Linked DNA regions of Homo sapiens: region 2 is linked to region 1. Evidence: fine-mapped QTL for protein levels in blood plasma. A gene starts in region 1. The other region holds a variant in brackets. All regions are shown on one strand. Distances are from middle to middle.

The links. A credible set is the group of variants that fine-mapping cannot tell apart. PIP is the posterior inclusion probability: the model's chance that the variant is causal. The UK Biobank Pharma Proteomics Project read protein levels with antibody pairs (Olink). The fine-mapping took linkage between variants from a reference panel, not from the people measured, so its PIPs are less certain.
Region 2: its variant is the best candidate, but not a certain one, in a credible set for the plasma level of the TTF2 protein (UK Biobank, PIP 0.74).

The regions. Positions count from the first base shown.
Region 1 is chr1:117,058,073-117,062,469 of GRCh38, forward strand. TTF2 (transcription termination factor 2) reads left to right here and starts at 2,254. Exons shown (of 23, transcript NM_003594.4): 1 at 2,254-2,302; 2 at 2,383-2,485; 3 at 4,315-4,397. The coding sequence starts at 2,275. CD101-AS1 (CD101 antisense RNA 1) reads right to left here and starts at 1,418. Exons shown (of 4, transcript NR_110786.1): 1 at 1,301-1,418. RefSeq lists a silencer at 1,325-1,374 and an enhancer at 1,795-1,954.
Region 2 is chr1:117,096,083-117,100,479 of GRCh38, forward strand. It overlaps TTF2 (transcription termination factor 2), which reads left to right. Exons shown (of 23, transcript NM_003594.4): 20 at 67-217; 21 at 1,269-1,351; 22 at 2,751-2,825. Among named protein-coding and RNA genes, the nearest start is that of MIR942, 3.6 kb to the left of the region's middle. The variant CT/C (reference allele first, on the strand shown) is at 2,106.

The DNA of each region.
Region 1 (4,397 bases):
AGTTTCACTCTGTCACCAAGGCTAGAGTGCAGTGGCACAATCACAGCTCACTGTAGCCTCAAACTTGTGGGCTCAAGCCATCCTCCCACCTCAGCCTCCTGAGTAGCTAGGACCGCAGGTGCCCACCACCATACTCAACGGGCATAAAAATTAATTTTAAAAATGTTTCCAGTTATGACCATCTTTCGTCCAATCTCAAACTTATTTTTTTCAATCTTGTAAATATGATGAGGTGGAATAAGTTGTCCAGGGACTTAACATTTTGATCTAGTATATTTTTAATTTATGGAAGAAATATTCCTCCTGTCTGTGATTTGGCTGTGCACACTTTTGTGAGGTTGGACTGGAGATACCGACTTGGGTACTTGCAGAGGAGGAGCTTCTTCCTTAACGGGATATTTAAGAGGCCCCGATTTTGCCTTGTTTCGAAAATTATTCAAGAAATAATTAATTACCATGCCCCTCTTTCTGCAAATCCTGTATTCATGGTATACTACCTCCAATACAGCATCTATTAAACATGTACAAATACATCATTTGCAAGAATAACAATCTTGGAATAATGAAAATGCTTCTACCTATTTGTTGTTCCTGTCTTATCTCTAAGTTCATCTAAGTTTCGGAAGGGTAGTTATGTATAAAGGAACTTCACTTTGGAAATTCCATTTTTCTCTAGTCCTAGAGAGTTACTGCTAACTCCATTCATTTTGACATTTAAATACTATTTTATATTGTTATTTAAGTGTTCAACATGTACTAGTTCAGTCTCCTCAAAATACTGAGTAAGTTCCTTGTGCTTAGAATAGTTGTTTCAAACTTTGTGTGTGTGAATGAATGAATTTTACATTTCTCAAGCACCTAGTCCACAACGGGCACAAAAAAGCTATTTAGTAAGTACTGTTTAATTAATAAATGATACCTCAGGTTTGTCTCCCTTCCTCCGGATCCCCATAACATGTACATTTATCACATCGCCCAGATTTCCTAGACATTACAGATTTTCTGTTCTACGGCCCCCATAAGAACAGTGCAGGTGCCACACCATATGTCTGGGACATATGGTCCTCAATAGCTGCAATATGAAACTATTTCTATTGCAATAAATCTAATATCTATTCCTCTCTGTTTACTAATAGTTTTGATTACAACTTCAAATTTTAAAAATCGAGGATGAAGTTAAATAGAAGGGAACTGTCCCCTTTCTTCTATTTAACCTCGTCTTCGATTTTTAAAATTACAAAAGCATAATAGTAAAAAAAAGTTTGACAATACAAAATGATAAAGTAAAATTCGCCTTCACCAAAAGTCATCTATTTCCCCTTCTGTGGTTTCCACGTTGCGGCTGGTAACTCGGGGCTTCCACGCTGGGCGAGCCTAGAGAACATCCAGTACACACAGGAAGCAGCAGCGCGGGCCAAATGGCGCTGAGACCTGCGCACCTGTCCACGGACCGCCCACTCGCCAACTCTGACCTTGGGTGAGTCTCTCAAACTTGAGTCTCGGAATCTTCCACAAAATGCTACCCATCTCACCAGGTCGAGTGAGGAGGGTCGTGTTATGTGTAAGCACTTTGTGAAATCTAAAGCACGAGGCAAACGTAAAGCATTGTAGGGGGTCCTAGAGAAGTCTTTGTGCCTGCCTATCAGAGCCGTTTCAGTTCCCCGCAGCAGCTTCCAAGGACCTCCCACCATGCCCGCCGCTTCGGCTCCTGCACTGCAAATCTCGCGGCTCGGCCTGCAGCGGCGGCTTCCCCTGGCCTCCCACCCCAGCGACTGAGCGCGGAGCCCAGCGCGCACGAGCGCCAGCCTGGCTCAGAGACACCCACGAAGCCAGGGCCTTTCAGCGCCTGCTAACTGGCGCTACCCCTAGGGCCGCCTCTCGGTTTTAAACGTAAACAAGAGTTGCCCTTCCGTCTTCCAAGACCTGCAAATCGAAGCTTCTTTTCCTCCAGAAGCCCCGCCACCTTCTAAGCTTCTCCCCAGCCTCAGCCACGCCCCAGCCTGCAAAAGCCGGGTCCTTTACGCCCCCTGGCTCCGTATTTGATTTCGGCGCGCGCCATACCTGAGGGCAGCTGTGATTGGTTGGAGGTGAGCGAAGTTCCTATATGATTGGCTGATAGCGGCTAGGACGGGTGAAGGCCAAGGGCGGAGAATTATGGGAGGGATTAAGACTGCAAGAGCTGAGTGATGGTTGGTTCCTGAACAAAGAGGGCGGAGTAAAAGGCGGAAGCAGAATTGGGGGCGGGGCTTTGTGGAACTTGGGGGACCCAGCGAAATGGAAGAAGTTAGGTGTCCAGAGCACGGTAAGGGGCTAGGGTCTCAGCGTCCCGGGGCCTGTTGATTTAGCGTGGCGTAATCGTTGTTCACTTTCTTCTCTCTTCAGGGACTTTCTGCTTTCTTAAGACCGGCGTCCGCGATGGCCCGAATAAAGGAAAGAGCTTCTACGTGTGCCGGGCAGACACGTGCAGCTTCGTGCGGGCCACCGAGTAGGTCTGGAGCTGGGCCCCACTCCCTGTGGCTGCCCGGGGCCTCCCGAGAGGAGCTTCCCGCTCCCCGCTGTCGGGCGTCACAGGGCCGAGGAGTGGTGGGGCCCTAGTTTGCGGTGTCAGGACCCTTTAAGCAATTGGTGATCCCAGGGCAGCGTGGCGTGTTCGGAAGACGCCCAGCTAATTCTGGCTGTGTGACCCGAGGCTGGTTACCCCCCTCTCTGGGCCGATGGTTCCCCTACCTGTAAAATTGAGGATCCGGTGTTTTCCAGCTCTGGGTTTCTATTCACTTGACAGGCCTTAACCACTCCCTTCTCCTGCCCAGACAGTCCCTCCCCCTTTAAAGGAGTAAGGACACACAGCAGACATAGTGGAAAATAATTTGTCCCTGTTTTGCACTAGTTTTAGGCCCGACGGTTTTTTTTAAATGTTTGAGCTTAAAACACTCTAGTGATTAGTTGTTAGCCTTCTTATTTTTAAGTAGGATTCTCTGCATCTAAATGGTGAAATTGATAATTCAAAGAAATTAGCGCTGGAAGAAACAACGGAGGGCCTGGCGCGGTGTGTGACGCCTGTAATCCCAGCACTTTGGGAGGCGAAGGCGAGCGAATCGCTTGAGCCCAGGGGTTCGAAACCAGCCTGGGCAACATGGTGAAATCCCGTCTCTACGAAAAATTAAAAAAAATTGTCTAGGCATGGTATCACACGCCTGTAGTCCCAGCTACTCGTGAGGCTGAGGTGGGAGGAGAGAGTCAGAAATGTTAAGCATCTTCTCTAAAGTGAGGAAAGTTAATAGTTTGTCAAGTGTTAATGTTTTCACAGTACCAAGTGTCTACATTTTCTATGTGAATTTTAAAACTATCATCACATCATTAAACATCTCCTGCTCTCTATTCAGCAAAACTTGGTAGAGAAAAGTTATTTTTCTCCGTGTCAGATGTAGAGTACATAATGGATATCAGTATTAGAAAAGTGCCCTTTCAACATGTATACTAACTTCCCATGTTTCTGTTTCATGAGTTAGATGATTTACACTGAGCCTCTCAGATATAGTACCCAGGTCAAGTTTTGTGAGATAGAAGCATTTTTACCTTTGCAGGAATTCAACATTAATGGTGGCATAAGATTTGGTTTTACATTAAGAGAAACACTCTTATTTAGGATCCCATCTACACAAATGCTTTGCTATACAAACTAGCACAGTGGTATTTGAAGACAATTATTTGATAAACTTGATTTATTTGGACTATATCTGATAACCAATATACAGGCCAAAAAAAGTGCCACAGGTTTAGGAGAGTACTTTAAACCTTCACTCAAACCTGTTTACTCTCAAATGTTATATATATTTAAATTTTTTCATAATAAGTTGGAAGGGAGTGATTAAAAACTTACACAAAACAAGAAGCATATAGGGCGTATTGTTAGAGGTAGGCGTGTGAATAACACTAAGTGACAGCTCTCAGCTTGTTAGAGGGAAAGGATGAAGGGAAGAGCCTGGGGAAAATTCATACAGGGCCTCACAGCCAGCCCTAATTATGTCATTCGTAGGGGGATCCCAGTGTAGAGATTACACAGTGCAGTGTGGTTTTAAACTTTTGAGTCATCAAGAAACAGTTATGCTTTATTTGAGAAAGTGGGTAAAGATGAAAGCTAGGGACTTCTTCCCCAAAGGAATGCCCATAGCTGTGATAATGTGTGGGAATTACAAACCCAGTAGAGGTTATACATAGATTCTTGGTGTAAAAACCCATAGTTTTGATTTGACTTTAGGATATTGATCTCTGTTCCTGACCTAAAAATGTTTTCAACTTTTTTCTTTTCTCTAGCATTCCTGTTTCCCATTGCTTATTGCATGAGGACTTTGTGGTAGAGCTTCAGGGTTTGCTTCTGCCACAGGACAAGAAAGAAT
Region 2 (4,397 bases), 38 kb after region 1:
AAAGCCCTGCAGATGAGTCTGTTTAATCTATGTTAGGGTATTTTTTTATTTTATTCTTCTTTCCAGTGTCATTGTCTCTCAGTGGACCAACATGCTGAAAGTTGTAGCATTGCACCTGAAGAAGCATGGACTGACTTATGCCACCATCGATGGCTCTGTCAATCCCAAGCAGAGAATGGACTTGGTAGAGGCATTTAACCACTCCAGAGGCCCTCAGGTACAAGCTGGTCACATCAGAGCCGCATAATTAACTGTTCTGAGTTATACAAAGAGAATTCTTTTTGTTTGGTTGGTTTTTGTTTTTGTCTTTTTGAGACGGAGTTTTGCTCTTGTTGCCCAGGCTGGACTGCAATAGTGCTATCTTGGCTCACCGCAACCTCCGCCTCCCGGGTTCAAGCGATTCTCCTGCCTCAGCCTTTCAAGTAGCTGGGATTACAGGCTCCTGCCACCAAGCTTGGCTAATTTTTGTATTTTCAGTAGAGATGAGGTTTCACCATGTTGGCCAGGCTGGTCTTGAACTCCTGACCTCAGGTGATCCACCTGCCTTGGCCTCCCAAAGTGCTGGGGTTACAGGCGTAAGCCACCGTGCCCAGCCATATAAAGAGAATTCTGATATGGCAACTTAAAAATATTTACAGCCTTGATTCCTCCGAGTGTTTAGAATTTATTAGACATGTATTGGGATACTTTTAAAGAGCACAAATATTCTAAAAAGAATCAAATATGAGGACTAAAAGGAGATTAACAGCAGAGCTGGTTAGGTTGAGGGGAATCTTTGCAGAGGAGGCAAGCTTTGAAGGATAGGTGGGGTTTTGGTATGAGGAAATATGGAAGGAAATGAAAGAACACAGGCATCTAATTATAGATAATAAAGATTTGGAAAGCATTAGTAGAATGATAGGCAGGAGAATTATTGTAGCAATGGAGGGGTAGGGACTGATGAAATAAACATAATCTGGTTAATTGAAAGTTTATTGAGCTGACCATCCCCAGGGTTCTAAATTACAGTATTTATATATTTTGGCAAGCACTCAGTTAATTTTTTGAGGTTGACTCACACACACACAAAATGTGATGTGAGAATTTTCTCAAAAGTGAGACATGGGAGATAGCATTATAATGTTAAAAAAAAAAACAATTTATAACAGCAGAAGGAAATTTGATAGGAACACAGTGCTTATCTGTATTGATTGTGGACTTAAACCTGAGACCGAGATGTGTTACGAGACCAAGTCTGTTTAAAGTTAATGTTGTGTTTCCTTTTGAAGGTAATGCTAATCTCTCTCTTGGCCGGAGGTGTTGGTCTAAACCTGACTGGAGGAAATCACCTCTTTCTTTTGGACATGCACTGGTAATGATTCCGGATTTGTCCTGGGTTGTCACAGCACATCAAGGAGGCCAGTGGGCTACAGGGGCAGCAAGAACTGACTTCTTATGTTGATTGCTGTGTTCGTATTGCAGAGATGCCTTGCTTTGTATGTGTCTATAGATACAGATCTAAGCAGGGTATAGGGCTAGCTGACTCCCCTGAATTCCTGAGCTAGCAAGCCTTCAAATGACTACTCAAAATAGTTCATTCACGTTATTGTTAGTCTAACATCTGTTTCCATGGAAACGGGGAGCATAGCTTTTCCTCATGGCTAAGAGTTAACCTTGCTCAGTTTTACCTCTTCTCCAGAATACTGTATTCCAGACACACTTGTTGGGGTCCAAGGAAATTTCAACCTTTGAAAAGAGGGAGAAGCATTACTCCAAAAAGAAAAGGAATAGGGATTTTCTAATTATGTTAGAAATACACTTAATACCTCACCCTTGGATTCATTGTATGTAGTGTTAATACCAGGAGTACAACCACATCTTTCGTGGCTACAGAATGAATGAGTTAGTGTGTTGCTAACAGAAAATCTCATAATGAGTACCAGTTTCTGGTTTTCCAGTTATGCCAATCAAGGATTGCTGCTGGGGATTGTCATTGGTCCAATTCTCCAGACAGCCCAGATGGGTACAAATAGGTCAACCTGTTATCATCTTCCAGGAGAACGGGTTTAGTTCTTACTTGGGACTCCTCTGTACACGTGAGTGAGGAAAGCATACTAGGAATCATG[CT/C]TTTTTTTTTTTTTCAGAGATAGAGAAATGTTATCCAAGATTTTAAAGAGGTAAGATGAGAAACTAATTTGGAGTTACAATGGGAATCAATAAAGAAGGAAACAAATTAAGTCTCCTTAATCGAATCACAGAATATTCAAGTTGAAAAAGGCAGCTAGTCAAGATCATTAGCTGGCCCTTCAATTTCCAAGTAGCAATCTGAAGCCTAGAGGACTGAGGTTAAATAACTTGCCCAAGGACATCTAGCTACCTAGAGACCAGACCTGAGTTTTGGTTTCACCTCTGTTACTTAAGAGTTGTCAACTGATGATAGTGCTAAGAGCTATTATTAACAGTCTGACCCTAGTTTCTCACTAGAAACTAGGCAAGAAGGTATCTGGCACCAGCTTGTCTTAGGCCAGTATAGCTTAGGACAGGGATCGACAGATTTTTTTTCTTTGAGGCTTTTCAGGCCACATAGTTCTCTGTCACATGATGTGTGTGTTTTGTTTTGCTTTGCTTTCTTTTCTTAAATCCCTTTAAAACTGTAACAATAATTTTTAGCTACAAAAACAAGCTGTGGGCTGGATTTGGCCCATGGCCCATAGTTTGCCATTTCTGATCTAGTATGTCAGTTCCTTTGAGCTTTAGCTGTCTTCTAACAGGAATCCATCACTTGAAGATCAAGCTTGTGACCGAATTTACCGAGTAGGGCAGCAGAAAGATGTTGTCATACACAGGTAAGTAATGGTCCCCAGGACCCAGGACCCTTCTCAACTTGTACTTTGTGAAAGTCTTTCTTTCTTAGGTAGTGTTTTCATAGAATTTAAAGTATTTGGTGATGACTTTACTGATGATGCCCCTGAGGCATACCTTCAGGCAAACCACAGTCAGGAGAAAAACGAGCAATTTGGGGTAAGCTTGAAGTTGGTCACTGCAAAAGAAGAGCAAATTTGTGTATATGGTGAGGGCAGTCCATGAAAGGATGCTCCTATCTTTTATTTTTCTTTTTAACTTTTATTTTGACATAATTTCAGACATACAGAAAACGTACAAGAATAGTACCAAAAAGTTCCCATATATTATGGTGTGCATGTGGGTAGAAACATTTTTCTGGACCACTTGAGAACAAGTTGTAGACCTGATGCTCCTTTGTCCCTAAGTACTTAAGTGTACATTTCTTAAAATTAAGGGAATTCTCTTACGTAACCCCAATAAAATCATCAAAATCAGGTTATTAAAATTAATAAAACACTATTATCTGATCTACAGATCTTTTCAATCTCACTTGTCTCAGTGATGTCCTTCACAGCAAAAAAGAATCCCAGATCCTGGTAGCACGCAGTTTTCATAAGTTTGTCTCCTTTGATCTGGAACAGTACCCAGTCTTTGTGTTTTATGACATTGACATTTTGATGAGCATGAGCCAGTTATTTTGCAAAATGTCCTCTGTTTTGGACCCCCTTGTCTTTAAAAACAACAAAACCTGCCTTAATGCTGCCAATCCCCTCTCACAATGGCCCTCTTTTTTGCCTTCCTTTTCATGACCAGGTTTCCTGAAGAATTAGGAATCACTGCCTATCTTTACTTGATTACTTCCCATTCATTCCTCAGCCTTTACAAACTGGCTTTTACTCCTGTTGCTGCACTGAAATTGCTCTTGTTAAGGGGCACCAATGACTTCCAGACTTTGCTAAATATAGTGATTATGATAGTCTTCCTATGCTCTCTTCTCTGCTCATTCTGTACATTCCTTCCTTCACAAATTCTGTGCACTCCAGTAAGTCCAAAATTTGTATCTTTAGTTCCAAGGTCTCCTAAACTTCAGACCTATCGCAGTCCCTGCTAAATATCTGAATCCGAGTGTCCACATACTCATCTGTTATTCCTTCTTTTATTCATTGTTCTTTTGAGCATTCAGCCCATAAAACATACCTTTTGAGCACCCACTATGTAGCAAGTATAATTACATGTTTCAGGTACTCAAATGTTACAAATAGAAATTGATTTTCTCTTCCTATTATCTCAAATCTGCTATTCTTCTGTAGTCATTGTCTTTGTGAATAGTATCACTCTTTATCTAATTATCTAGCCAGAACTAGACTCCTACCTTTCTCGCTTTTCCACTTACCAAGTCCTTTAGTTATATTTTCTAAATGTTTCTGATAACCATTTCTTCCTTCCCATGCCCACTGCCAGGTCCCCCCTTCCCACTCTGCTGAATCCTGTTCTCTCCATCACCACCGAAGGGCTCTTCCTAGCTAATCCATCTGATTGTGTCATCCACTTCTCATATTCTTCAGTAGCTCTCA